Linked DNA regions of Homo sapiens. The protein of the gene in region 4 interacts with the protein of the main gene of each other region in a pairwise test. Each region holds a gene or a part of one and is shown on either strand. Other genes may lie near its edges. The genes, in order: NAPRT, ARID5A, UBAP2 and RBPMS.

Region 1 (7,783 bases), about 110 Mb from region 4:
AGTTACCTCTGCAAAGGCCCTGTCTCCAAATAAGGTCACATCCTAAGATACCGGGGGATAAGACTCCAGCATGTGGATTTGGAAGGACATTATTCAGCCCATGGCAGGGGCCCAGTCTCATCTTGGATTTGGGGTGGGAGTGCTCAGCAGACACTGGGGTTTCAGAACTGCAGGGTTTCTGGTAGCGTGGTGCTGGCACAGGGTTACAGGCATGGGTCTGGCTCTGAAGTGTTTGCCTTTGGCATCCCCCAAGTCCCTGAGGGGCTCTCTGAGGCCCGCTGTGACTGCACTGGGTGACCTGAGCCTGCCCGTTGAAGCTGTGCTCAGGGATTCTGATGCCTGGCATCCCTAGTCCCCCCTGAGTCAGCATCAAAGGAGGGGACTCTCCCTGTGTCCTGAGTGCTGTGGGCTCTGGCCTAGTGGCCCGCAGAGCCAGGCAGTGGTGAGACGGCCCCCGCTGCTCATCATGCAGCCCGGGGCCAGTGCTGACTTAGTGCCTCTTCCAGAGGGGACCTTTTCCCTGTCCTTGGGCCTGCTGTGTGGGGTGCATGAGGCCTCAGGTGCCACTCACAGACTCCGGCCTCCTCAGGACCCAGCCCCACTCCCGCGGGAGGTCTGCTGTGATTCTCCATGCCCCCTGGCGCCCCAAAGCCTGGCCCTCCCGTGCTCCGGCTTCTGCCCCCGAGTTTGTCAGTTTCTGCCGGTGCCTCCCGTACCCCCACCACCATTCACGCGCCTCTGCCAGCCTGGCCTTTCCCTGTCCATTTCCTCCTGGCCTTGCTGCCAGGTGGGCCTCCTGGGCCAGTTTGGCTCGGCCTTGCCCATGATCTGCGGGGCTTAGCTCCCACACCCTCCAGATACATAAACAAGCATTCCCCACAGCATGGTCCCAAGGACGGTGGCAGGAGGGCCCCAGGGATGGGTTTGCACGTTGGGCAAAGGCCTGAGTATGTCCGCACCTGCTGCAAGGAGCGGCTTTGCCTGCCCGGCTACTCCAGGCCCCTCCCCACAGAGAGGGAGCCCCGGGGAGCTGCCGAGATGGGGTTTGCTGAGAGCTCCATGCAGCCAGGTGCACCCTGTCCTTCGAGCCATCCTGTTGGAGGGTGGGCAGGCTAAATGGCCCATGCGTGCAGGTAGATGCTTAAGGACTGGCTAGTGTTAAGGGCCAGGAGGCTGGGATCCTGTCTGGGCCCCGAGGTATCAGTCTCAGCTATGGCAGAGTATGAGGTGGGCTTGGGGCCCTGGATCACCTAGAGACTGGCTTGCTGAGTGAGATGGCAGGCGTGAGGCCCAGGGAGACAAAGCTTTGGGTGGCTGCTGTCCACACAGGTGGGCTCCTTCCTTCTTCCCCCACTGGGCCCTCAGCTGCTCCCGCCTCCCATTTCCAGTGCTGCCTGGTCCCCTGAGGCGTGTCCCAGGTTGTCCCTAGGACTGTGAGTCCTTCAGCACCTCCCACCCAGCCTCTGAGCCTGGCTGCTCAGCAGGATTCCGCCGGGCAGCAGCAGCCATGGCCCAGCTCCCCACAGCCTCCGTCTCTGGGGCACCAAGAGCCTCCTGTCCTGGACTTTGCCTGGCTGAGAATTTCACTGTGGTCTGTGGTGGCCGCCACCTCTGAGGTCATAAGTTTGAGCTGGGCATCAGCGGGGGGCACCTCCTGCTCTCCCGAGCTGTAGTTTTCCTTCCGTGAGTTCCTGCAGTCCTGAGCATGGCAGGGGGACCCTAGGAGCAGGCTGGGCACTGAGCCCTCCCCTCCTCCTGCCTTGCAGAGCTCAGGCCCCGGGGCCTCCAGCGGCACCAGCGGAGACCACGGTGAGCTCGTCGTCCGGATTGCCAGTCTGGAAGTGGAGAACCAGAGTCTGCGTGGCGGTGAGGCCCCGGGCCAGTGGGTTGGGGCTGTCCCTGGCCCCTGCCATCTAACCGTGCTCCCCTTGCCCCCCCAGTGGTACAGGAGCTGCAGCAGGCCATCTCCAAGCTGGAGGCCCGGCTGAACGTGCTGGAGAAGAGCTCGCCTGGCCACCGGGCCACGGCCCCACAGACCCAGGTGAATGCTCTCCCCACGCCTGACACTGCAGGGGACCACGTGGCCCTGCTGGCTTCCACGTCGCCCTGTGGGCTGGCCCCAGCAGCAGTGATGAGCTGGCAGCCAGGATACTGGAGTCCTCAGGTCCCCAGGAAGGTTTACAGTTAGCCCTGGGCAGGTGGAGGCAGTTTTTGTCTTTCCTGGGGCCCTGCATGTACACAGCTGCGGTACACAGGGGCTGCCCTTCCTCCAGTCAAAGGAGGGAGGAGGGCCAGGAGGTGGCCAGGCAGCTCTGGGCCCTGGTTGGGGCGTCTCAGCCGTGCCTCCTGTCCCTTCCCCTGTGGCAGCACGTATCTCCCATGCGCCAAGTGGAGCCCCCAGCCAAGAAGCCAGCCACACCAGCAGAGGATGACGAGGATGATGACATTGACCTGTTTGGCAGTGACAATGAGGAGGAGGACAAGGAGGCGGCACAGCTGCGGGAGGAGCGGCTACGGCAGTACGCGGAGAAGAAGGCCAAGAAGCCTGCACTGGTGGCCAAGTCCTCCATCCTGCTGGATGTCAAGCCTGTGAGTGGGCGGGGTGGGGCTTCAGGGGGCCAGGCACTGCCCTGGTGCCCGCCTAGCCGGCTCAGCCTGTGACCCTCCCCCTGCCCTCTGGGTTCTGGGGAGACTTTAAAGCCGAGTTTAGAAGTCTTGGGATAAACACAAACTTGGAGGCAGGAAGGTGTGAATTTGGATTGTTTTCTGTGGGCCCTTTAAGGAAACAGAATTGTGGACACACAGTGGTTGAGGGTAGGGTGCATGCAGGTACTTCCTGGGTGTTCTGAGGGTGGCTGACCCCAGCTTTTCCTCCCCTTTCCCCACAGTGGGATGATGAGACGGACATGGCCCAGCTGGAGGCCTGTGTGCGCTCTATCCAGCTGGACGGGCTGGTCTGGGGGGCTTCCAAGCTGGTGCCCGTGGGCTACGGTATCCGGAAGCTACAGATTCAGTGTGTGGTGGAGGACGACAAGGTGGGGACAGACTTGCTGGAGGAGGAGATCACCAAGTTTGAGGAGCACGTGAGTGAGCCGGCCGGGGAGAGGAGGGGAGAGGAGACTGGGGACCCTGGCCCATACCCTGCACTCCACCCCACGGCAGTGGGGAGCGAGTCCCAGAGTGAACCCCACCTCAGAGGAGGCTCCTGGCTCCGAGTGGGCTGTAGGGGAACAGCCCTGACCGTCACCCTCCGCCTCTCCTCAGGTGCAGAGTGTCGATATCGCAGCTTTCAACAAGATCTGAAGCCTGAGTGTGTGTACGTGCGCGCGTGCGTGAGGCCCTGCCACGATTAAAGACTGAGACCGGCCCTCTGGCTCCGTCCTGGTCATTTCCTGCTCGTACCTGGCCTGTCTCCCTCCCTGTCTCAGCCCCATCTCTGCCCTGCTGTTCCCACACAGTCATCCTGGCTGCTGCCACCCTCTGTGGCCATGTCACCTTGCCCCCAGCAGACCTCCGCCTGTCCCTCCATCTCCTGGCCACTCCCTCCCAAAGCTCTGGCCCTCCCTCTTCTTTCCATTGCAAAAGCAAGTCCAGTTCAGGGGGTTTAAAAAGCCAGAAACAGAAACTGTTAGGTCACTATCTGGAGAGGCCACCACCCCACCACTCTGCCTCCTGTTGGCATTGTCCCCATGGGAGCAAGCGTGCAAGCCTGGAATTGTCCAGGAAAGAAGTCCCAGTAGCACCCGGCCCTGCTGCCATGCCCTTTGTCATGTGCTGTCCCGGCCCTCCCCTCACCTCATTCATTCCTGGAATCCCTGCCCCTTGCTCCAGGGACTGTGCCCCTCCCATGATGTTCTGGGGTGGCCAGAACGTGGCTGCCTGGGCTCTGTGGAGCTGTGCCTCAGCATCCTGACAGCCGTATGTGGTCAGCATGGGTGGCCACACTCCCTCCCCTGGACCACCCGTGTTTGCATTGGGGTGAAAGAGGATGGGGTGTAATTACTTGATTACTTCTGGTCAGACTCTGTCCTCGGGGCCCCAAGCCACAGGGGAATGGATTCTCCCTGGGTAGTGGCCCCTGACTTTGCCCTCAAACCTTTAGAAAGTTTCCTGTGGGGCTTGGACTGCAGGACCCCATAAAAGCCACCACTGAGGGACACTGGGCCTTCATAGCCACAAAAGGTCTTTTGGTGCCAGCCGACAGTGGGCATGCGCCCCCCTGCCCCACGCCGCCCTTTCCTGGGTGCCAAGCTCTTTCCAAGCGACATTTGCGTCCATCTGGGCTGCCTCGTCCTAGCCTGGCTGCTCAAGCTCTAACTAAGGCAGCCTCTGGCCTCCCTCCCCAGGCCCAGGGCAGGAGCTGGCTGCTGGCCAGCGGTTGTCTTCTGGGTCGGTGGGGGTGGAGTCTGGCTGGTCTGTCCTCCACCCTTTCCGCCGCCTGGCAAGTCCTGAGCTGCACCTCATTGCCCGGCCAAAGGGCAGAGACACGAGCGACTGGGGGCACCTCTGGTGACCAAGACCGGGCTGCGCTCCAAAGAGGCCGTTGGGCCTGGAGTGGGGTTGGGGGGTCCGAGAGGAGTTGGGTGACATCCCCCACCCCATCCCGGGTCCAGCTGTTTCAGCCCCTCTCGGCGCGCCGATACTATTAGCCCCACCCGTCCTCCATCGAGTCCCGTGCCGCTCCCAAACGGCACGATAAGCCCCACAGGGAGTGCGCCATAGGCCGGGGCGCGTCACGGGGTCGGGGCGGGGCGGAGTCCGGACGTCGGGAGCAGGATGGCGGCGGAGCAGGACCCCGAGGCGCGCGCGGCGGCGCGGCCGCTGCTCACTGACCTCTACCAGGCCACCATGGCGTTGGGCTATTGGCGCGCGGGCCGGGCGCGGGACGCCGCCGAGTTCGAGCTCTTCTTCCGCCGCTGCCCGTTCGGCGGCGCCTTCGCCTTGGCCGCCGGCTTGCGCGACTGTGTGCGCTTCCTGCGCGCCTTCCGCCTGCGGGACGCCGGTAGTCCCCCGTCCGCGCGACGAGCCCCCCACGCCCGGCAGAAACCCCCACCTATGGCCGGTGGAAGTCCTTGTCCCCCCGTGGAACCCCCCATGTCCCACGACCGGTCTGTCCCCGCGCTGGTCTCAGCGCAGTTACCTCGTTTCCAGACGTGCAGTTCCTGGCCTCGGTGCTGCCCCCAGACACGGATCCTGCGTTCTTCGAGCACCTTCGGGCCCTCGACTGCTCCGAGGTGACGGTGCGAGCCCTGCCCGAGGGCTCCCTCGCCTTCCCCGGAGTGAGTAGGGGTAAGCGGGCGGCGCGGCGGCCACGGGGTGCTGGGCCGAGCGCGGAGCTGACTTCTCTCCCCGCAGGTGCCGCTCCTGCAGGTGTCCGGGCCGCTCCTGGTGGTGCAGCTGCTGGAGACACCGCTGCTCTGCCTGGTCAGCTACGCCAGGTGGGCTGCGGGCCACTGGCAGGGAGCGTGGGCATGGGATGGGCCCCCAGCGCCGGGGCTCCGTGCTGGACTGTGGCGGCGGGGCTGGCTGCCCAGGGGTCCCAGGACTGGCCTCCCGCCCCCACTCTTCAGGGTGTAAGGAGGGGCTGGGTGAGGGTGGAGCTCCCAGGTTGGAAGTTCCAGGCCCCAGGTAACCGCCGTCTTGGGTGGCCTAGTGATCCTCACCCTGGGACCCCCTGACTCTTGGCTCCCCACAGCCTGGTGGCCACCAACGCAGCGCGGCTTCGCTTGATCGCAGGGCCAGAGAAGCGGCTGCTAGAGATGGGCCTGAGGCGGGCTCAGGGCCCCGATGGGGGCCTGACAGCCTCCACCTACAGCTACCTGGGCGGTGAGTGTCTGGTGCGGGGCAAGGCAAGGGCCGGGAAGGAGGAGCCCCATCTTGGCCCGAGGTCCCCCAATCCCACCGCCTTCCTCCCCAGGCTTCGACAGCAGCAGCAACGTGCTAGCGGGCCAGCTGCGAGGTGTGCCGGTGGCCGGGACCCTGGCCCACTCCTTCGTCACTTCCTTTTCAGGCAGCGAGGTGCCCCCTGACCCGGTCAGTCCCTCCTCTAAACCCTGCTGTCTCCAGGCGACAGGCCCCAAGCCAGCCCTTGCCCTGGCGAGAGGTGTGCCACCCAGGCAGGTCACCCCAGTGCTGTCCCAGGAAGCTGGCACGGGCTGCATTACCTTTGCTCTCAAACTAGGGTGTCCCTGGCTGCTCCCAGGCCTCATCCTGCATTCCTGGCCCCCATTCTTCACCGACTCTGTTCCACAGATGTTGGCGCCAGCAGCTGGTGAGGGCCCTGGGGTGGACCTGGCGGCCAAAGCCCAGGTGTGGCTGGAGCAGGTGTGTGCCCACCTGGGGCTGGGGGTGCAGGAGCCGCATCCAGGCGAGCGGGCAGCCTTTGTGGCCTATGCCTTGGCTTTTCCCCGGGCCTTCCAGGGCCTCCTGGACACCTACAGCGTGTGGAGGTGAGCCCGGGCACTTTAGGGGTGGGCTCAGCAGAACCTCAGCAGCCTCTGACTCCCTTATCTATTTCTGCAGGAGTGGTCTCCCCAACTTCCTAGCAGTCGCCCTGGCCCTGGGAGAGCTGGGCTACCGGGCAGTGGGCGTGAGGCTGGACAGTGGTGACCTGCTACAGCAGGCTCAGGAGATCCGCAAGGTCTTCCGAGCTGCTGCAGCCCAGTGAGTTTCCCGGGGAGGAGGTGTGCCTGGTGGGAGATCCCCGGGGTTTGGGAATGGGCAGGGAAGGACAGTGAGGTACTCTGCTGAAGTTTCAGCGGTGATACTGCAGGCCGTGGCAGGGAAGTAAGTGGTGGGGCTCCCTAGGAGCTCCCAAGCAGAAGGTGAGCACAGGTGTCCTTGACTGAGGCGGGGCGGGGAGCAGGGGGACACCAGGGTGAATCAGGAAGACCCGAGGGGTGGCCCCCACCCTTTCTCCACCCACGCGGCAGGTTCCAGGTGCCCTGGCTGGAGTCAGTCCTCATCGTAGTCAGCAACAACATTGACGAGGAGGCGCTGGCCCGACTGGCCCAGGAGGTGGGGTGGATGAGTGGGTAGGCGGAGGGTGGCTGGGGGGCTCTGGGGGCCCCTGCAGGTTCTGGCTGGGCTCATTGCCACCTCCTTCCCCGCCCAGGGCACTGCCACCCCCTTCCCCACCCAGGGCACTGCCACCTCCTTCCCCCACCCAGGGCACTGCCACCCCCTTCCCCACCCAGGGCACTGCCACCCCCTTCACCCAGGGCAGTGCCACCTCCTTCCCCACCTAGGGCACTGGCACCTCCTTCCCCACCCAGGGCACTGCCACCCCCTTCCCCACCCAGGGCAGTGCCACCTCCTTCCCCACCCAGGGCAGTGCCACCCCCTTCCCCACCCAGGGCAGCTGGGCTCACGGCCACCCCCTTCCCCACCCAGGGCAGTGAGGTGAATGTCATTGGCATTGGCACCAGTGTGGTCACCTGCCCCCAACAGCCTTCCCTGGGTGGCGTCTATAAGGTAGGGACAGTGTCGGGGGCCCAGGTGGGGGCAGGTCTGAGGGATGGTGCTGGGTGGGGGATAAGGACCAGCCAGCTCAACGCCCTCTTCCTGCAGCTGGTGGCCGTGGGGGGCCAGCCACGAATGAAGCTGACCGAGGACCCCGAGAAGCAGACGTTGCCTGGGAGCAAGGCTGCTTTCCGGCTCCTGGGCTCTGACGGTGAGGCCCTCCCATCCCCCCTGCTGTCCACCTTCAAAGCACCAGGGCCCCCGCTTATTCTTGCCCCGTCCACACAGGGTCTCCACTCATGGACATGCTGCAGTTAGCAGA
Region 2 (6,402 bases), on a different chromosome or scaffold from region 4:
TAGGGCAGTTAGAACTCTGCAGATGCTCAGGGAAAGGTCAGATATTCCTGAATATTCCCAGAGGAACTACTACCCAGGGACCCCTGTGTTGCTTTGGGGCCACAGCCATGGGATCCTTTAGCTCTCCAGTGAGACTAAGCTGCTTCTCAACTCTGTGTCTGAGCATGGGGCAGATTTTGGAGACAGGATTTCCCCAAGCACCACAGCCCAACCCCGGCCTCCTGTGACTTGACCTCAAGGTGGTTTTGCGTTTCCTTCAAAGATGTGGGGAGATAGTTGGAGCAGAGGAAAGAAAAGGGACAGGTGTGGAGCGGATGCAGCGGGTTGTCGGGGAGCGGGGAGGAGGGCCTGTGTGTGTGTGTGCATGTAGCCTATGTGCAGCCAGGGACACACCCCTTCCCCCTGGCCAATTCTTTTTTTTTTTTTAATAATAGAGACGGGGTCTCACTACGTTGCCCAGACAGGTCTTGAACTCCTGACCTCAGGTCATCGCCTGCCTGGGCCTCCCAAAGTGCTGGGATCACAGGAGTGAGCCCCTGCACTGGCGCCCTCTGGCAACTCCAATTGGGAGTAGGGAGAGTGCTCCTGTTCCTCCCTGCTTGCATCTCATATGCTCTCTCCCCACCCCTTCCTCCTTACTCCTTCCCTCTCTCCTTGCAGCAGCCCCTGTCAAAGGGAACAGGAAGCAGTCCACGGAGGGTGACGCCCTAGACCCACCTGCATCCCCCAAACCTGCTGGCAAGCAGAACGGAATCCAGAACCCCATCTCGCTGGAGGTGAGTTGACTCCCTCTGCTGACTCCCTGGGCACTCTTCCCTGCCACCCTCACCTGTGCTCCGCCTCCAGGTGAACCTGGACACTCCCCAAGCTCTCAGGAGGGAGATATGTTCCTACCCTGGCCCTGCCCAGCAGCCAGGGGACTTACTTGTCATCTGTGGCAGAGAGTTTCAATCTTGGTTTTTGTAGCAGAACCCTTTTTTGAAATGAAGATGACCTACCACCCTGATCCATTAAACAGACAAAAGCTCCAGCCCATGATGTAAAACCACATTCACATCCATTCATTCAGATGCATAACATGGGCGTATAAAGTCACTCGGTGAGACCAGCAAGACTGTTTCGATGAGCACAGAATCTGAAGGGGGAGCTGCAGGCAGCTTTTTCGGAGCACAGTCGGCCCCGGCTTTCATTCATTTTGGCCATTTGCTTTGGTGGCACAGTCTGGAAAAATATCCTGATTCATGCAGAAAAGTGGTTGCAAATGGTAGTTGTCTTTAGCAGCTTGCCAGGAATTCAGAATAGAGGCCTGGAGGAGCAGATTGACTTGAGCAGTTATGAGAGAGCCTTCCTTCTGAGGTCTGCACAGACCAGCCCCAGGGCCCCAGCATGTTATGATTTCATGGGTGATATGTGAGTTCCTATGTTGTTTCTTCTTAGAGGTCTTTAATACCTTAAAAACACTGAGCTATTACAGAAGCTATTTACAACTAACAAAAAAAGTAAAAACACTGAAATAAACTTGAATCAATTATTATTTTTTTTTTTAGACAGAGTCTCACTGTTACCCAGGCTGGAGTGCAGTGGCACAATCTTGGCTCACTGCAACCTCCAGCTCCTGGGTTCAAATGATTCTTCTGCCTCAGCCTCCCGAGTAGCTGGGATTACAGGCATGCACTACCAGGCCTGGCTAATTTTTGTATTTTTAGTAGAGATGGGATTTCCCCATGTTGGCCAGGCTGGTCTCAAACTCCTGACCTCAAGTGATCTCTCTGCCCACCTCGGCCTCCCAAAGTGCTGGGATTACAGGAGTGAGCCACCGTGCCCAGCTGGATCAAATATTTTTGGAACACATGGCTGTCTGCGCTGTCCTAGTCCAGATGGTTTATGTCCTGGAAGCTGTCTGTTCTCTGAGCAGGGTATGGGCCCTAGGCTCTCTGCCCCGAGCCACTCGCTGGATAAACGGCATCAGCAGAGATTGCCCCTCTGGGACCCGCAACCAAAAGTCCTGTGCCCCTGACAGCAGTGCGCAATTGAAGCCCAGAGCTTCACCTCCCTGTGCTCAGCACGGCAGGCTGGGGCCACACAGAGGCTCGGGGAACATGGGCCTCACAGAGTAACCCCAGGGCACCAGAAAGCACCAAGCACCTTTGTTCCTTCAGCTTTTCCCTCTGCGGTTATGGGGGAGTCCCAGGGACACTGAGCCTGCCCTCCTGGAGTTCCTAGTCTGGCGGAGGAGCTGACACAAATAGGACAAATCAAGAACAAGACAGAGAAGTGACCCTGGCCTGGAGAAGGCTGGGGACTGCTCTCGTGGCAGCCTCTGGAGCCAGCTGCTCTGGGGTACCCAGCCTCCGGGGAGGTCCTGGACTCTAGCTCCTGTCCTGGGGCGCTGAGAGCTGACACCTGTGTCTGCCGAACCCAGGAACAGTCACTCCCTCCCAGAACAGTGGCTAGGTGTTCTCTGGGAAACTGGGGTTGGGGTAGGTACCTTATTCCTCCTGCAGCCAGTGGTTTCTGCACATCCCCAGCAGCCAGCCACCAACTGGGGCCCATCCCAATGCCTCCTGTTCTCTCCCCAGGACTCCCCCGAGGCAGGCGGGGAGCGGGAGGAGGAGCAGGAGCGGGAGGAGGAGCAGGCCTTCCTGGTCAGCCTCTACAAGTTCATGAAGGAGCGACACACGCCCATCGAGAGGGTGCCCCATCTCGGCTTCAAGCAGAGTGCGTCCCTGGGGTGCAGGCAGGGAGGGGGGCCCAGCAGGGGACCCCGCCCAGGCAGGGCATCGGGCAGGCACTCCCACTCTGGGTGACCCAGGTTGCAGATAGAAAGGAGGCCTCCCTCCAGGCTGCCACTGGGCCAGGGGTGCACAGGGCACAGCCTGCCCGTCTATTGCAGTGGCCCTGGCTGGGTGTGTGCTGGTCTGTGCCTGGCCTGTCAGGGCACCAGGAAGGGGTGGCATGCTGTCCCCACCTCCCACAGAGACTGACGGCCAGCCTGCTCTTCTCTCCCCCAGTTAACCTGTGGAAGATCTACAAAGCAGTGGAGAAGCTGGGGGCCTATGAGCTGGTAAGGAAGGCACCTCCCAGTCCTTGCCAAACTGCATATCCCTGGGGTGAGCCTGCAGCGCTGTCCTTGCCTCTGGACAGAGGAAGAGCCAGGATCCCCAGTCCTACCCCTGCGTCCCTGCCTCCCTGCCTTCCCCGCTGGTACTCTGCTGCTCAAAGCAGCTTTTCAGCCTTCCCCATCTGTTCTGCCCGCCCCGTGTTGGGAAAACTGCTTGGGCCAGCAGTCCATGGCCCTAGGAGAGAGAATCGGCTGGCCGCTGCTGGAGCCGCAGAGCAGCTGCCAAACTGCAGTCCTTCGAGTCCCTGCGAGGGCGGCCGGAGCTGCAAGGACCCCGCCGCCAGGGGGCGCCCGCCGGCCGCGCCCTCACGAGGTGCCCTTGCAGGTGACCGGGCGCCGCCTCTGGAAGAACGTGTACGACGAGCTGGGGGGCAGCCCAGGCAGCACCAGCGCGGCCACGTGCACGCGCCGCCACTACGAGAGGTACGGCGGGGCGGGCCCGGGTGCTGGACGCCGCCTACCCTGCGGGGCTTTGGCCGACCTTGCCGGGAGGGCCGGGTGGACTCTGCCCGGAGCGGGCAGGGTATGCGCCGTCCTCAGAGCTGCGGGAGCCCAGGCTGGCTGGGCGCACTCACTGAGGGAGCTGAAGCTTTGGGACCAGGAGAGGGCCTTCCTCGGCGCCGGCGGGGAAGGGGGCTCAGAGGAGGCTACAGAGGCCCAGGGAGGGGATGGGCGCCGGCCTCCTGGGGGACATGCGTGGTTCCTCACCAGGCTGGTCCTGCCATACGTGCGGCACCTGAAGGGGGAGGATGACAAGCCGCTGCCCACCTCCAAGCCCAGGAAACAGTACAAGATGGCTAAGGAGAACAGGGGGGATGATGGGGCCACCGAGAGGCCGAAGAAGGCCAAGGAGGAGCGGCGCATGGACCAGGTAGGCCTGCGGCTGGCTGGGGCCACCCTGTCCCTTGCCTCTTGTAGCCCCCTACCCCACAACTCCCTGTGGCCGCGGAGCTGTCTGCTCAGAATACACAGAACCTGCACCCAGGGCGGGACTTGCAAGGTTCCAGGTTCTCCACAGATGGTTGTGCAAGTGGACTCTGAACTCCAGCCTGCGCCCACCCACCAGGCACCTGAGGCTGTGTCCACTCAGAGGACAGGGCACCTTTGGAAAATTCTGTACAGAGGACTGCAGGGGCTGGCGGGGGACCTGGGCAGGCCTGAAAGTGCCACCTCTTGCTCCTCAGGTCAGGATGTGGGGCTGAGGCAGTCCTGAGGCAAGACTTTCTCTCATTCCAGATGATGCCAGGAAAGACCAAAGCAGATGCTGCTGACCCAGCACCACTTCCCAGCCAGGAGCCCCCCAGGAACAGCACAGAACAGCAGGGCCTGGCCTCTGGGTCTTCTGTGTCCTTTGTGGGTGCCAGCGGCTGTCCTGAGGCCTACAAGCGGCTCCTATCCAGCTTCTACTGCAAGGGGACACACGGCATCATGTCACCACTGGCCAAAAAGAAGCTCCTGGCCCAGGTGAGCAAGGTGGAGGCCTTGCAGTGCCAGGAGGAGGGCTGCCGCCATGGGGCAGAGCCCCAGGCGTCCCCAGCTGTTCACCTCCCAGAGAGTCCCCAGAGCCCCAAAGGGCTGACTGAGAACTCCAGGCACCGGCTGACCCCTCAGGAGGGATTGCAGGCCCCAGGTGGCAGCCTCAGAGAGGAGGCGCAGGCAGGCCCCTGCCCGGCAGCCCCCATCTTCAAGGGCTGCTTCTACACCCACCCCACCGAGGTGCTGAAGCCTGTCAGCCAGCACCCCAGGGACTTCTTCTCTAGACTTAAAGATGGGGTGCTATTGGGGCCTCCTGGCAAAGAGGGGCTGTCAGTGAAAGAGCCCCAGCTGGTGTGGGGCGGAGACGCTAACCGCCCTTCTGCGTTCCATAAAGGTGGCTCCAGAAAGGGCATCCTCTACCCCAAGCCCAAAGCCTGCTGGGTGTCCCCCATGGCCAAGGTCCCAGCCGAGAGCCCCACGCTCCCGCCCACCTTCCCCAGTAGCCCAGGCCTGGGCAGCAAGCGCAGCCTGGAGGAAGAGGGTGCTGCCCACAGTGGGAAGAGACTGCGGGCCGTGTCTCCCTTTCTTAAGGAGGCGGATGCCAAGAAGTGTGGGGCCAAACCTGCAGGGTCCGGCCTGGTCTCCTGCCTTCTGGGCCCAGCCCTGGGGCCTGTGCCCCCAGAGGCCTACAGGGGCACCATGCTGCACTGCCCGCTGAACTTCACTGGCACCCCGGGCCCCTTGAAGGGCCAGGCTGCACTCCCCTTCAGCCCCCTGGTCATCCCGGCCTTCCCGGCCCACTTCCTGGCCACCGCAGGCCCCTCGCCCATGGCCGCTGGCCTGATGCACTTCCCCCCAACGTCCTTCGACAGTGCCCTCCGCCACAGACTTTGCCCGGCCTCATCTGCCTGGCACGCACCACCAGTCACAACCTATGCAGCGCCCCACTTCTTCCACCTCAACACCAAGCTGTAGGCCAGCCCATGGTGTTGTGTACACTGTGGAGTCGACAGGGGCCTACAACAGGCAGGTACTGCTGCCAGGGGGCTCTGAACTAGTGCCTGCTACCCAGGACACCCGGGCCATGCCCCTGGCTGGGCAGCCTGGCACAAGTGAAGAAGAAGGCAGTGGGAAAACTGGGTTTATCTCAAGGCAGCAGCCTGAGCCCAGGAGCAGAGGACCCAGTTGTTATAAGGCGCTGGGAGAGGATGGGCAGCTCCCACTGCCCCAGAGCGGAGCTCGAAGCACCCAGGTTGCCCACGGAAAATCCAATAAAAAGACACCAGTGTGAATCCACGTAGCCCTGAGGTGTGTGTGGTATGGGCCTTTGCAACGGCAGGCAAGGCGGGGGTGAGCTTGTGGGTGGGGCTGCCATTAGGGGGCCAAGGAGGTGGACCTGAACGCCACTACCCCACTGAAGAGCGGGCCCAAAGCAAACCCCAGCCTCTGCCGTTTAGGCAGCCTCTAACATCTGTCCTTGCCTTCAGTCCAGTTTCCTAGTTGAGCTTCAGGGAATGCTTGCTGCCTTCCTCATTGTGGAGATGGGGATTGGAGGTCCTGGGAGGGTCGGTGACTTGCCCAGGTTCCCCTGGCAGGAGGGGCAGGGGAGGGCTGCACAGGCTGTGTGACTCCCGTGCTCTGAGCGGGACCCCAGGCTGTTACCAGTGCCCCTGGGGGGTTGGGGGTGTGACCAGGAAGCCTGAGTTGGTCTGCGTTGGTGGTGGATGTAGATTTCTGGGGCCTGCAGCTGAGCCCTCTCTGCAGCCCCACCCCACTTGCCTGAACCGCATGGACAGACCAGAATG
Region 3 (7,140 bases), on a different chromosome or scaffold from region 4:
AATCAGTGAGGTTTTAGGGCTTTGATGTTCTTATTTTCTCTGATCCTAGGTTCTTGGTAGGACTTCTTGCTTAATAAATGATAATGTAATAAAAGTAACCAGCACAGTGTCCCTGACACAGAAAAGGCAGATGTTTTTGAAAATGAATTTAACAAGAAATTGAGGCCTGGAGAAGTGACACAGCTTGTACAGGGTCACAGAGCTAACACGTGGTCTCTGGTCTTCCTTTTCATAAAGCTAATCTTTTTTTTTCCTTTTTTTTGAGACAGAATTTTGCTCTTGTTGCTCAGGCTGGAGTGCAATGGTACGATCTCAGCTCACTGCAACCTCCGCCTCCCAGGTTCAAGCAATTCTCCTGCCTCAGCCTCCCGAGTAGCTAGGATTACAGGCATACACTACCATGCCAGGCTAATTTTGGGTTTTTAGTAGAGACAGGCCTTCTCCATGTTGGTCAGGCTGGTCTTGAACTCCCGACTTCAAGTGATCCACCTGCCTCGGCCTCACAAAGTGCTGGGATTACGGATGTGAGCCACTGCGCCCGACCTCATAAAGTTAATCTTCTTTTTTTTTTTTTGAGAGGAATCTTGCTCTGTTGCCAGGCTGGAGTGCACTGGCTCGATCTTGGCTCACTGCAACCTCCGACTCCCGGGTTCAGGTGATTCCCCTGCCTCAGCCTCTGGAGTAGCTGGGACTACAGGTGCGCACCACAGGTGCACCACCACACCTAGCTAGTTTTTGTATTTTTAGTAGAGACGGGGTTTCACCATGTTGGCCAGGATGGTCTCAATCTCTTGACCTTGTGATCCGCCTACCTTGGCCTCCCAAAGTGCTTGGCCACCGCGCTGGGCCAAGTTAATCTTATAATTACGTAAGTTATATACCAGTGCCTTCTCCAAGTAAAAAGCGAAAACGTTAGACTGCAGTCCCTTTGGGCCAGCAACCCCAATCACAAACCTCTTTCCCACCCCTCAGAGCCAGCCACTGTTATCAAGTTTGTATATTCCTTTCAGAATCCTTTTCTCCTGATCTGTCATTTTTTTTCTTTTTGAGGCGGACTTTTGCGCTTGTCACCCAGGCTGGAGGGCAATGGCATGATCTCAGCTTACTGCAACCTCCGCCTTCCAGGTTCAAGTGATTCTCCTGCCTCAGCCTCCCGGGTAGCTGGGATGACAGGCACCCGCCACCATGCCTGGCTAATTTTTGTATTTTTAGTAGAGACGGGGTTTCACCATGTTGGCCAGGCTGGTCTTGAACTCTGGACCTCAGGTGATCCGCCCGCCTTGGCCTCCCAAAGTGTTGGGATTACAGGCATGAGCCACCATGCCTGGCCTGATCTGTCCATTAAGTCTTTGACTCTCAAGGGTGGTTTTTATCTCTGATGCTCCCACACATTTCTATAAAGCAGCAGGGCAAACAGGAGGAAGACGAACAGACAAGACACAATCCTAGCTCATTGTCAAAAGAGGTGAGATAAGATACACCTACACATGAATGGTGATGATGATAAGTTCTGTTTTTTTTTTGTTTTTTTTTTTTTGAGATGGAGTCTCACTCTGCCTCCCAGGCTGGAGTGCAGTGGCACAATTTTGGATCACGACAACCTCTGCCTCCTGGGTTCAAGTGATTCTCCTGCCTCAGCTTCCCAAGTAGCTGGGATTACAGGCGCCCGCCACCACGCCCGGCTAATTTTTTGTATTTTTTTAGTAAAGACAGGGTTTCACCATGTTGGCCAGGCTGGTCACAAACTCCTGACCTCAGGTGATCCACCCACCTTGGCCTCCCAAAGTGCTGGGATTACATGCGTGAGCCATCACGCCCGGCCCAGTTCTGTTTGTTAAAGGCACAGTTTAAGCATTCTTTGTTTTTTTTTTTGTTTGAGACAGAGTCTTGCTCTGTCGAACAGCCTGGAGTGCAGTGGTGCTATCTTGGCTCACTGCAACCTCCACCTCCTGTGTTCAAGTGATTCTCCTACCTCAGCCTCCTGAGTAGCTGGGATTACAGGCGTGTGCCACCACGCCAGGCTATTTTTTTTTTTTTTTTTTGAGACGGAGTCTTGCTCTGTCGCTCAGGCTGGAGTGCAGTGGCGCGATCTCGACCCACTGCAAACTCCGCACGCCATTCTCCTGCCTCAGCCTCCCGAGTAGCTGGGACTACAGGCGCCCGCCACCACGCCCGGCTAATTTTTTTGTATTTTTAGTAGAGACTGGGTTTCACCGTGTTAGCCAGGATGGTCTCGATCTCCTGACCTCGTGATCGGCCCGCCTTGGCCTCCCAAAGTGTTGGGATTACAGGCGTGAGCCACCGCGCCCGGACATTTTTTTGTATTTTTAACAGAGACGGGGTTTCACCGTGTTGGTCAGGCTGGTCTCAAACTCCGTATCTTGTGATCCGCCCTCCTCCGGCTCCCAAAGTGCTGAGATTACAGGTGTGAGCCACCACGCCCGGCAGCATTCTTTAATTCAGATGAATAACAAAGGCTTTATTTGAACTAGATAGGGCTGTTTAAGATGTCAATTGTTTTACTTAATAACTAGCAAATTAGTAATTAGCATAGTGCCCTGTACAAAGTTCAGTATAAGCTAATTTCCCCTTTCTACCTTACTTAGACCTTTTGGGCCCGATGGGTAGAGTGTGAAAATGATTACTGATACTTACTGAGGGTTTATTATGTGTCAAGCAGGCATTTTACATAATCTCATTTAATTTTCACAAGCCGGTGAAGTGTTATTACAGAGGAAAGCTCCAATTGAGATAAGGCATGCCGGGACTGCAAAGTCCTTGTATGTAACTAGCTTGGGATAAAACAGGCCAGTAAGTAGACCTTGAGAGCTTGTTTAGAGGACCTTGAGAGCTTGTTAACACGGGCGTGCAGCTACTCCTATATCCTTGACTTGTCCTCTTCTATGGGGGATGCTCCTCCTTTTCGACCGAATATGCAGCTTCGGGAGGGACGCACATGGAGAGGTGCGGGAGGAAGGGGCCACCCGCCTAGACAGCCAGATCAGCCGAATCAGCCCTGGCGATCTATGGGGTGACAAGATAGCCAGAACGCCCTCACATCCAAACAGGCCAGTAAATGGAAAATACTTTAAAACACCATGCTACAATTATAAACCATCATCTTATTTATTCGTAATTCTTGGAGTTGACAACAGGTCAGATCCTATTGAGAGGAGGTCATTAATTTTCTAAAGACAGAAAACCTGGGTCTCTTCGGTCAACAAACAACTCTAAGGTTCTTTTTTTAAATCCTTAAATAGGGAAAATCCTGGACTCAAGGAGTTGATTATATGATATAACAGAAATAAACGGCTGACTTGGAGTAGGCGTTCAGTAGATTCTAGTCTTTTCACCCAGAAGGGGCTTGGGAGGGCAAAAGTAAAACCGCACTGAAAAAGACTAAAAGTGGGCGCACCTTCCGCCTTGCCGAGGCTCTCGCTGCTAGCCGTTGGCGTTTTCCCGCGCAGGGGGCAGGGCGCAGAGCGAGCCCAGGAACGTGGGAGCGGAACCCCACCCCCCGCCAGGACTACACCTCCCAGCAGGCACCACGCTCCGCCACATGGCGGGCGGCATCCAATGGTATTAGTCCTTCAAGCCAGCTTAGTCCGCTTTCCGTCCCGGCCTTCCCTCGGCTCTAAGGTCTCTAGGGGGTTCGTCTAGAAGCCCGCTGGAGAAAGGCTGCGGTAGGGGTCGCCTTGGCTGTGCAGCATGTTGGGAGTCGTGGTCCCCTCGTGCAACATTTGGGAGGCCAGGCTTGCCCTGAGTGGTTGGACCACATCACGTGATGAGCACAGGGCGGCCACAGGGGAGTAACCTGTGGTGCTTTGTGAGGTCATCACGGCGCGACGACGAGCTGCAGTTGTGGGCACCTTGTATGCGGTGGGTAATACTCTCCTGATGACTCCGAGTACAATACATATTATCAAGTCTCCCTTATTTGTTCCTTTCTGTGGTCCCCACCTCCACGCGGTTGGCTTCGCGGGGTTGGGGTGGAGGTGGTGGCTGGAAGAGGCCGCGCGCCGCCTAGGCTGACTCTGAAGCCGCGCACGAGCGACGTGTTGTGGCTCCTCCTTCGCCCGTGACGCGAGGTCACGTGACGGGTTGGGCAGCCTGTGCCGCCGCCGCCGCTTTGTAAGAGGCACATTGGCAGGTAACGAGCGGCGGCGGCGGCAGCGGGTCTTGGGTCCTCCGAGAGCAGCAGCGGTAATTGCCATCCTCTCCCTCTCCTTCCCTCTTCCAGGGCCCTGAGCGCTGCAGCGTGTGCTTTCTAATTCTGGGTTCAGCTCGTCTGAAACCCCACCGCCTGCAGACTGCCCCGGCGCCCACCCGTGAGGACCGGGCCGAGCTTCACTCGCCAGGTCCACGGTCCCTCTACGTCCAGGCCCGGGCTCCCTCCTTCCTCTTCCCCTCACGTTGCCCTGTGCTTCTTCCTACTTTCCCCCGTCCAGGTCGGCTGGGCCCCACCCAGCCCCAGGGGTGCCTCCCCTCCCCCCTTTCGGGTTTCTGCCCTGGAGGGTGTGGTTTTCTCTCCCACCTCGGTGCCTGCCAGTAGACTGGAGCTTCCCCGCCACGCTGTCGGTCCCATCTCATCACCTTTCCGCTTTCACGCCCGTAGCTAGTCTTGGGACTGGCCCTGTTATAGCCCCAACTTATGCGCTCTCTAACCTTTCCTGGCTTACCCGGAGTCACAGTTCAGTTCTACTTCTTTTCAATTCTGTAGGGCATTGGTCTCAATTGGGACTCAGTTTTCCTCCACACCCGCCGTTCCTGTAGTCTGGTTATATCACAGTTCATTATTTAATGTAGGTTTTTGAGCGCTTTGTAAACGGCAAAGCTCTCTCTGTTAATAATACATACTCAAAATGTTATTCTTTCATTGGTGCATTACAACTCAGTTGTTTGCCTCTGAATCACTTTCCCACTCGGCTTTTCCACATTTTCCCCTGAGTTTTTAGTCTAATTAGTTGCCCACGCATCTCAACTGTCACCACTCTGGTCTCTAATGCTTGCTCGCTTTAGGGGTTGATCCCATCATTATTACTGTTATTTCCTGTTTGATGTAATCCAGTCATTTACTACCACTTCTATTGGATATTGTTTTTACCTCACATTCAAGGAAGGTATATGGTTTGCCAGTATTTAGGCTTATTGTCTTTCTACAGCACCAGTGTATCCTAACAGTTGAGAGATTTTAAAAAATTACTATTAATTTTAGAGATATGGTCTCCATATGTTGCCCAGGCTGGCCTCCAGCTCCTGGGTTTAAGCGATTCTTTCACCTCAGCCTCCTGAGTATCTGGGATTACAGTGTGCACCACGGTGCTCAGCTAGTTGAGGGTTTTTTCAGGTCTCCATAAGGTATCCAAAGATTATCTTTTATTTGAAGGGCATATAATTTCTTGGGTGAACCCAGTTCTTATATTCCTCTTCCGTTGTGACAGCACTTTTTTCAACAAGGGGTATGCGACTAGTTATTGCATTCCTCACTTTTCACTGTGAATTGTGTATCCGTTTTAGTGCCAGTTTGTGAAAGGTGGAAGGAAGTTGAACATGATACCTAAGCTCTCCCGTATCCTACATTGGTGTGTTCCCCTTTTACCTCAGGAAAGGGAATGTATTCCACTCCCTGGAGATGATAGTTTCCTTCAATACACTCACCTGTGGAGCCCCTTCGCTAGGGTTGTCCTTCCATTGCTTTGAAGGCTTCTCTTATCATTAGGCAGAAGTGATTAGTTTCCCAAACTGCCCTTTTGCTTGCTGCCAGCATACTCCTGATTTTCCTACTTATGGCTAGTTGATACGTGTGACGAGAGATTTTCCCACAGCGCTGATTTCCCCCATTTGCTTCCCTGTTGCCTCTCACCCTCAATAATTATGAAACCTTTCAGAGAAGGAAGGTTTTTGTTGTGATTGAAATATGCCCGAAAGTGGTGGCATGGGAGAGAATGAGGCCATGGGAAAGGGTTGTGGTAATTGCCTCTCTTGCCTGTTTCCTGCTGCTCTGGTTTCCTCTGTCCTCCCTTTAAATGTGGGCTGGATCAGCAGTAGTCACATGGAGTTGCCTTTAGAACTATATTGGAACAACAATAACACCTCTGCTTCCCTTTCCTGGTTACTAGTGCAGTCTATGTAGTGATCACCAGGAGTGTCTCTCTTAGTATTAGCCTGAGTGACTTTTATTGTATGGGGAGAAATGGTGTGATGGTGTGAGAACATGTAGACTAATAGGTTTATTTCAATATGTACTTGTATTGTGATGGGAACTGGTCCCGGTATCTACCCTCTTAAGTATAAAATATGTGTAGAAAGTACAAACCTTTCTTGAAGGTTTGGAGTGGTCTGAAGTGAAGCCTTCTTTTTTTTTTTTTTTTTTTTTTTTTTTTTGAGATGGAGTCTTGTTCTGTCGCCCAGGCTGGAGTGCAGTGGCCTGATCTCGGCTCACTGCAAGCTCCGCCTCCCGGGTTCACGCCATTCTCCTGGCTCAGCCTCCCGAGTAGCTGGCACTACAGGCACCCACCACCACGCCCGGCTAATTTTTTGTATTTTTCAGTAGAGATGGGGTTTCACTGTGTTAGCCGGGATGGTCTTGATCTCCTGACCCCGTGATCCGCCTGCCTCCCAAAGTGCTGGGATTGCAGGCGTGAGCCACCCCGCCCGGCATGAAGCCTTTACTTCTAAAATGTTAGCTTTGAATTGTTGATTTCCCAGTCCTCTTTTTTTTTTTTTTAAATGATGATTTATTGTTAAGATTTCCTTTGTTAATAAGACACTTTGTGGGGTTGGGGGGTGGGGGTGGTTAAGTATATTAGCAAGGGTTAATGCCTGCTCTAAAGAAGCAGTCTGCAGGCATTTACAGATTGTAAAGTTCTCTGCCCTTAAGCACATCTGTCTTTATTTTTCCTTGTGAGAAACCTGTATGTCAGCAAATACCCGTTCATTCTTAGTTGTTATTTTGAGTAAATGGAGCTCTTAGTTGTTATTTTGAGTAAATGGAGCGTTCTTAAAAGCTAAGTGTTATGGTACCCATGGTGTTGACTGGTAAGTTAGTAGATCTCTGATAGATTTTAGAAGCAGCCGTTTTTTCCAAAGAGTGGAGATACAACCTGAAGGAAGGCAAAGAGAGGGAGGACATGTAGGGAA
Region 4 (7,713 bases):
TTTTTAAATGTGCTTAAGAGCAAGTTGCTGATACAATGGGTGGGCAGGGAAAGGGTCAGTGCAGTGGTTTTGTGTAATGCCGGGCACATTAATGGCACTCACCTAATACTCTATTTATTTTACCTGTGGCTTTCAGGGTTAGAAAGAAAAAAACAAAAAAGAGGTTAAGAGTTTTTCAAGAACAAAATATAAACCAAAAATAGGAAATTAAGGCAAAATTACCTGGATCATTCAGGCCACCTTAGTTTCTTTTCCTCAATTTCTGACATTATAAACCCCCCTCTCTTCACGGTCTTAACTGTTTTGTACACGACATCTCTCTTGGACAACTTGGGTTCTGAAATCTTCCTACGTGTCCCCTTACTTTTTACATAACAAGTGTTTTGCTAAAAAGACCGATACTTTCTAGAGCCACATGCCATTCCTACCTGAAAAGGAACGCTGTCAGATAACAGGACAAGTAAGAGGCAGCAACTGTACTGCAATGGCCCGCGATTATACAGCGATTATTATACACAACCTCACAAGGACGGAGGAGCGTCCAGGAACAGGGCAGGCAATCCCTTGGTCCTGGCAGCTGTTAAGAGGGGTCAAGCAGAAAAATGTGACTTTTCTATACTTAATTTTAATGTGGGTATGATTTTTAGGACATTGAACCTCTTTTGCTACCTACCAAAAGGAAAAAAAAAAGTTTTCTCAACTGGGTGAATAAAGAAAGATGGTTTCATATAATATTCTAACCCTGAGAAGCAAACAGATTGCACATCTAGCTGAAACAGAAAGATTTCTGAAGCGATGATTATCTTGATATGGTAAGTGAATTAGTTAAATATGGTAATTCCTAAAAAAGCACACTTGTCATTATTTTTAAATTTTTTTAAGTGGTAGGGAAAATAAATAGCAAAGCAGCCAGTAAAGTTCAAGAAAAAAAATCAGAACACACCATTCAACTCTCCATCGCTTTGAAAAAAGAAATGCCAGTAGCATTCCTACAATTGTAATTAGAAAACATGCAAGTAAACAACTCTTCAAATAGTCTTTTATAATAAAATAGAAAATGTCCTCGGGTGAAAAAGCAATTTTTGGCTGACTGCAATTCATTTAGGTTTTCACTACCATACAACTGGGTGACGAGTAAAATCTCCTATTTATTTTGCATTGTTTGGCATAGTCTCGCTCCTCTACCTTCTCCATCTAAATAGTTACCATTTTCCAAGTGGACAATGTGCAGAGAAGTTGTATGTATTAATGAATTCCTCTGCAATTTTGGTTTCACTATCAGAATTGAAGTTTGCACACAACATAGTGTCTCAACAATGATCTCAACATTCTAACGCTTTAGAATCCGTTTACCTTCTGTGTTCACCTATATCAGGATCCAATACCTGTGTGAATCTTTTCGGGTCATATTTAGACGTGCACTTTCCTGCATCTACACACACTCTCAAGTTCCTCTAGAATGTTTAAGAACTCAACTGTGTGGGATGTTAAGAAGTACGCCAGAAATAATTTCTTGGACTCCAGATAACGTACCTGCAAAAAGAGTCATTTGGTAGGATACCACAAATATCCTACTGAATTCTGAAACGTTTGTTCCTGAGTCCGACTCCCCTTCTGACCACATCTACTCAATTTTGTTTCCACCGAAGGAACGCTCCGCAGTCACAAAACTTTCATCATGATTACGGACGCACCACCTAAAATGCATGCTCAGAAGTCAAAGTCCTATGAAAATACCCTCGATGAGCATTTGGTGAATTGCTGCGTTTTTAACCCTCTTACTCTGCTCCCCTCAGCTGCACGGCCCCTAAAATCACAAGCGTTCACCGCCCAGGCTCGGGGTCTTTGACTCAGCAGAGAAGAATGTGGCTGATGAGTTATCTATTAATCCAAAAAACCTCGGCTAGAAAGATATTTCACCAAGAACTTTTAACACGGAAAGGGAGGGGGCAGGGAATAGAGGTATCTTTTAACGAGAACTTTCCCCCGAGTTTCTTCCTTAAACTGCTCCCCCCCCGACCCTGAATCCATACACAATTTCCAGCCCCGGCCCTAAGTCCTGACCCTCCGAGTCCCGATTATCTGAGGTCACCCAGGAGTCAGCTCTCGGTTCCACTTATAAATCCCGGGCAAACAAAGCTGAGCATTATACTTACAAAAGTCTCCGAAAAGTCCTTGGAGTTACGCAATTTGGGGCCCGCAGACGCGCGTGGACACAAAAACACACGCTCCCGAGATCCACCCTCCCCGGGCCACACTGTGGGGCTGCGTCCGGGGCACGGGCCATGCCTGAACCTTCTTCCACCGCCGCGCCCCGGGCCCGCGCCCCGCCGGCCGCCCGCACTGGGTCCCGCGTCGCCCCCGCCACCACACCGAGCCGCCCAGTACCTCCTCCTCCTGAAGGTTGGCCTCGCTCGGGGTGTTCTCCTTCTCGGCTTTGCCGCCGTTGTTCATCTTCCCGGTCCTTCCTCGCCGGGCCGGGCAGGGCTGGGGCGCGGGGCTGGGCGAGGGCGCGCTAGCCCACTGGAGCCTTCCCCGGGCGCCGGGGCTCCCTCGGGCGGGCGCCGCGGGCTGTGGGGCTGGAGCTGGAGCCGGGGCAGTGGCTGTCGGGCTCGGGTTGGGCTGGGGCTCCCGCGGCGAGTCTGCGACGGCGGCGGCGGGCGACTCAGGAAGTGCAAGGGAGAGACGGGGCAGGGCGCGGGCCGGGAGCGGGGCACCGAGACAATCGGGCCCCGGGAGGGCGACCTGGAGAGGGAGGGCGGGAGCCAGGGGAGGAAGGAAGAAGGAAGGAAGGAAGGAAGCAAAGGATGGGGCGAGGACGCGCGTCCCAGGAGTAAGCGCGGAGAGTTGGGGCTGGGGGCTGCAGCCGCTGGAAGGAGGGGACGGGGGTGCCTAGAGAGGAGGAGGAGGAGGAAGAGGAGGAGGAGGAGCGGGGCGGAGGAGCGCGGGCCGCGGCTGGGACGCTGGGACCCGAGAGCCGCTGAGTACGCGCTCCAGGCAGGCTCTGGGAAGTCCGGGATGGAAGCAGCTCCCTTTCTCTCGCCTTCCTCCCTCCCCTCTCCCCTCCCTCCTCTCCGCGCCTCTCCTCCTCCCTCCGCCCTCCCTGGACGTGGGCTGCCGGCTGCAGCCCGGAGGGACGGGGCGCGGGACGGAGCCCCCCGCGGGAGGAGGGGCCGGCGGCCGGATGGCGCGCGCCGGGGAGGGGCAGCGGGCCGCGGGCGGAAGCGGCGACCCCAGCCCCCGACTCAGCGGCTGGTCGGAGGGCGAGGGCCCGGGAGGCCGAGGGCAGGGAGGTCGGGTCCCGCCGTTCCCTTGGCCCCCGGGGGCCCCGGCGTCTGCGCGCCCCGGGACTTCGGGGACCCTGCCCCGCCGGGGCCTGGACCGGGACCTGGGATGTGTGCGACTTTTAGTTTGCCGGCTTTTACCGAGGGATTTGCACCCCTGGCCCTAAGCCCACCCTTCCCGAGCCAGACCCGGTTCTTCCTCTGCTGCTTGAATGACAGCATGAGAACTCGAGGGACACCGGGGACAGCCCACTCCGGGCCGGCTTTTTCAGGACAGGGCTTCAAACCCATCTCCAGCGCGGGTCCTGCGACGCGCCCGGAGCCTTCCCCGCTTCGCTTCCTGAGCGTCCCGCGGCCCCCCGACTCCTCTCCCAACTCTCACCAGACTGTTCTGGGATTGTTTACCTGGCCTCTCCCTCACCCTTCAGAAAGCTCCTTCCTGGAAGAAAAAAAAAAATCCTGCCCTATTTATCTTTTTAATCCCACGGCTATTTAAACGGGCTAAGGGGTATATAGCAGGCACTCAATAAATATTTGTTGGCAAAGTGAATATTCCTTATTGCAGGCAGAGCTGGGGGTCCGTACGGAGGAACTTCAGAGGCTGGAAGCACGCTTGAAAAAGAAAGGGGGCCTGGGCTTTGCACCAGCTTCAGGATTGCGTACTTGTTTCCTCATCCGTGAAATGGGAGCAGCTGAATGTGTCTCCTCGAGTTTTCGAGGTGATTATAGGTTGATAGAGCTATATACAGCACCCAGCATTTATTCTTGCTTCGTTTAGGTTTACAATACATGGAAGCTAACATTATTATTAAGAAAACTTCTATTTTTCCAGGGCCTTAGAAAGCGTTTCCAATACTCGATCATTTAAGCTTATGGTTTTTTGGTTTTTTTTTTTTTTAGAAAAATGAGGGTCTCACTTTGTTGCTCAGGCTGAGCTCGAGCTCCTGGCCTCAAGTGATCCTCCTGCTTTTGGCCTCCCAAACTGATGGGATTACAACGTGGAGCCACCGTGTTAAACTCTTAGATTTGACTGCTACAAAGGTATAAATGTGGAACTCCATATATCAGTGGGTTCTGCCCCACTTCTTCCTCCCAGGAATTCTCCATCCCAGCCTGCTGCTCCTGTCTTGCACCGGTAACAGTTTCCAACTACAGTATTTGCTTAACTGTTTCTCCCCACCCCCACCAGACATTCTTTATACTTGGTTTAAGTGCTGCTGGGGATAGGGCGGGGGTGGCTGTGGGAGTTGCAGATAAGGACCCTCCCTTTAGGGAGTTTAAAGTGGTATGGTGGCTCACACTTGGAATCTCAGCACTTAAGGAGATAGAGGAAAGAGGATTGCTTGAGCCCAGGAGTTCAAGACCTGCCTGGGCAACATAGTGAGACTCTGTTCTCCACAGAGGGGAAAAAAAGAAAAGACAAAAAAATAAAGTGGTATGGAGCCAAGATACTCTCAGAATCCTCTTTCCGATTATAGAAAGCAAGGAAAATATTTGCTTTAAGGGCATTATGAGGAGAAAAACAGTAGTGATACTTGGATTTACATATTGGATTTATCTTGGGGGTTTGGAGATTTTGAAACAGGAAGATTTCCATAAGGAAAACATGTTTTTTTAATTGCTGTCATAATGTGATTTCTCTCTAAGGGGAACAAACATGTATCCTGGATGAAAATAAACCAACTCTTGAAACTGCAACCCAAGACATTCAGAAGAGATAAGGCTACAGTGAATGTGGAAACTTTGCACGTGTTTGGATGTATTGATTGCCTTAACTGGCAGCTCTTTGCACTGCCAGCTTCCCTCAATTACATGAGGAACCACGAGGGGGCAATGTCTTCCCGAGCAATAATAGCTGAGTGGTGGTCTTAGGACCCCGTGGTGGCCCATGATGCTAGCACTGTGTCTTTGGCCATTCTTGCCTGTCATGGAGCATACTCCACAGAAGGGCATGGTCTTCTTGGATCCCGGCATGGGCCCAACAAAAATGACAATGTAGTCAATAGTTCCACTCAGACCTCACTTAGGAGCAGGTGAACTATGTTGTGTGATATCAGGATGCCCGGAGAACCTCTCCTATCCCCACCCAGGGAAGCATGGCTTAATTCCAAATAAAGAATCTGATTTCTTTGTCTTTAAGCCAAGCCAGGACTTTGTCCATTGTTAAAAGTCAAAAATCTCTGGGATAAGAAACAAAAATAAGTTCCAGGCGGGGCACGGTGGCTCATGCCTGTAATCCCAGCACTTTGGGAGGCCGAGGTGAGCCCAACACCTGATGTCAGGAGTTCAAGACCAGCCTGGCTAACATGGTGAAACACCGTTTCTACTAAAAATACAAAAAATTAGCTGGGTGTGGTGGCGCACGCCTATAATAGCAGCTACTTGGGAGGCTGAGGCAGGAGAATTGCTTGAACCCGGGAGGCAGAGGTTGCAGTTAGCCGAGATTGCACCATTGCACTCCAGCTTGGGCAACAAGAGTGAAACTCTGTCACAAAAAAAAATAAGTTCCAGGAGAGGATCCTTGTCTGGCTTATTCACTGTTGTATTCCCAGCATCTAGACAGTGCCCAACACATAGGAGGCGCTCAGTTATTTTTTAATAAATGAGCATTTTAAGTCTGATGGGTTACTGATTCTCAGGCCTGAATGTTATTACTGGATTTTTCCAAGATCCAGCAGGAAGGACTAAATCAGTGGAGATGTCTTAGAACAGATAGTCACAGCAATGGCATTAGGCAGGGTCTTGGCAGTGTTTTTTTTTGTTTTGTTTTTTGTTTTCTGAGAGTCTCGCTCTGTGGCCCAGGTGACATTGTTTAAGCAAATGTCTCACCCAGGCGAGAACTGTTCAAGCAATTCTCCTGCCTCAGCTTCCCCAGTAGCTGGGACTACAGGTGCACACAACCACACCTGGCTAATGTTTTTGTATTTTTAGTAGAGACAGGGTTTCCTCATGTTGGCCAGGCTGGTTGGTATTGAACTCCCAAACTCAGGTGATCCACCCACCTCAGCCTCCCAAAATGCTGGGATTACAGGCATGAGCCACCGGCCTGGCAGTGGTCTTTAGTCATGATTTTGCAGGGGGGACCCTAGATAGAGACCTTGTGCAGAATGGAACAACTGATAAGGTTTCAAACAGTAAAAGATAAAATCCCACCATTGAGGCCGGGCACAGTGCCTCATGCCTGTAATCCTAGCACTTTGGGAGGCCAAGGCGGGCAGATCACCTGAGGTCAGGAGTTTGAGACCAGCCTGGCATGGTGAAACCCCATTTTTGAAAATACAAAAATTAGCCAGGCGTGGTGGTGGGTGCCTGTAGTCCCAGCTACTCGGGAGGCTGAGGCAGGAGAATCGCTTGAACCCGGGAGGCAGAGATTGCTGTGAACCAGATCACACCACTGTACTCCAGCCTGGGCGACAGGGAGACTCCATCTCAAAAAAAAAAAAAAATCACACCATTGAATTTGACATATCAGACAATAAAATCGACACTGATGCAGGGATGGCTATACTATATAGTCAGTGGTGAGAGTGACATTCAGGGTGTTTTCAGAAAAACATATGGGGTTGGGATAATATGTCAAGAAAAGGGAGATTTCCTGCTTTTTATCCTTTTCATGAAGAGTAGTTTAGAGTTATTTGAAAGAGCAATAATGTATTACCAATAAAACTCAAGGAAAATCTGTAAACAGACTTTTGCTATTTATAAAACTTTGTGATTGAAGGCAAAGAGTTTGAATTTGTGTGGGGGAGGAAAATGTACCTTCAATCAGGGTATAAATGATAATTACAGCTTGTTTATGACTTTAAAGAAAGATTCCAAAGTAATATCTCCTCAGTAGCAATAGTTCTCAGGCATCCTGAGAATTATAAGACCACAAAGGGATTTTTTTTTTGAGACGGAATTTCGCTGTAACCAAGGGATTTTAAATCCTGTAATAGTTGTGCTGAAGACCAGAAAAGTCCGCTTTCTCCCCAGCCTAACACTCTACCTACTGTATTGCCTGACCTTCGAGGTTACCTTGAAAGGGTAATATTGTATACACCTGTAGTTTTTTACTACTCACTGCTGTTTCTCTGGCAGTGTTCATTTCGAGGCTTGCCTTAAGAAATCCAAACCTATAATTATGTCTTAAATGTTTGCCTTTGGGAACTGCAGACATTAAAGGTCTATTTTGAGGCGATTTGCATGGCATGGGCTTTGTACCTATGTTAGCTTTGCAGCAGAAAGCTGCAGTATCTACCATGTGTGTTGTGATTGTCTATTAACCCTTCGGCTGAGCCAAAGAAGTTATTGAGGCCAGAGGGGCTGTATTTTATTGGTTTTTGTCATCCTTGACACCTCTCTCTCCCTTACCTCGTGCCTGCTCACCTCCAGCTCCTCTCCATCTTCCCCTGATTTTTTTATTAATTTATCATTGTGGCAAAAGACA

What was found.
Region 1: the proteins of RBPMS (region 4) and NAPRT interact in binary tests that used the Homo sapiens proteins (3 or more experiments, as listed by UniProt).
Region 2: the proteins of RBPMS (region 4) and ARID5A interact in binary tests that used the Homo sapiens proteins (3 or more experiments, as listed by UniProt).
Region 3: the proteins of RBPMS (region 4) and UBAP2 interact in binary tests that used the Homo sapiens proteins (3 or more experiments, as listed by UniProt).

What each region holds. Positions count from the first base shown.
Region 1 is NC_000008.11:143,575,312-143,583,094, reverse strand, and holds the start of NAPRT (nicotinate phosphoribosyltransferase), read left to right. Parts: upstream 1-4,764; 5' UTR 4,765-4,776; coding exon 4,777-5,002; intron 5,003-5,151; coding exon 5,152-5,279; intron 5,280-5,355; coding exon 5,356-5,438; intron 5,439-5,695; coding exon 5,696-5,826; intron 5,827-5,917; coding exon 5,918-6,033; intron 6,034-6,252; coding exon 6,253-6,449; intron 6,450-6,522; coding exon 6,523-6,663; intron 6,664-6,932; coding exon 6,933-7,017; intron 7,018-7,392; coding exon 7,393-7,473; intron 7,474-7,569; coding exon 7,570-7,672; intron 7,673-7,749; coding exon 7,750-7,783. Other genes in the region: EEF1D (elongation factor 1-delta), read left to right, coding at 1,767-1,866, 1,941-2,041, 2,368-2,589, 2,889-3,083, 3,265-3,303. UniProt on the Homo sapiens protein: Catalyzes the first step in the biosynthesis of NAD from nicotinic acid, the ATP-dependent synthesis of beta-nicotinate D-ribonucleotide from nicotinate and 5-phospho-D-ribose 1-phosphate.
Region 2 is NC_000002.12:96,546,742-96,553,143, forward strand, and holds the end of ARID5A (AT-rich interactive domain-containing protein 5A), read left to right. Parts: intron 1-660; coding exon 661-776; intron 777-2,579; coding exon 2,580-2,718; intron 2,719-3,011; coding exon 3,012-3,064; intron 3,065-3,284; coding exon of another isoform or gene 3,285-3,446; coding exon 3,447-3,544; intron 3,545-3,832; coding exon 3,833-3,992; intron 3,993-4,357; coding exon 4,358-5,572; 3' UTR 5,573-5,893; downstream 5,894-6,402. UniProt on the Homo sapiens protein: DNA-binding protein that may regulate transcription and act as a repressor by binding to AT-rich stretches in the promoter region of target genes.
Region 3 is NC_000009.12:34,045,888-34,053,027, reverse strand, and holds the start of UBAP2 (ubiquitin-associated protein 2), read left to right. Parts: upstream 1-4,140; 5' UTR 4,141-4,203; intron 4,204-7,140. UniProt on the Homo sapiens protein: Recruits the ubiquitination machinery to RNA polymerase II for polyubiquitination, removal and degradation, when the transcription-coupled nucleotide excision repair (TC-NER) machinery fails to resolve DNA damage. May promote the degradation of ANXA2.
Region 4 is NC_000008.11:30,379,834-30,387,546, reverse strand, and holds the start of RBPMS (RNA-binding protein with multiple splicing), read right to left. Parts: upstream 3,007-7,713; 5' UTR 2,455-3,006; coding exon 2,389-2,454; exon of another isoform or gene 2,146-2,388; intron 1-2,145.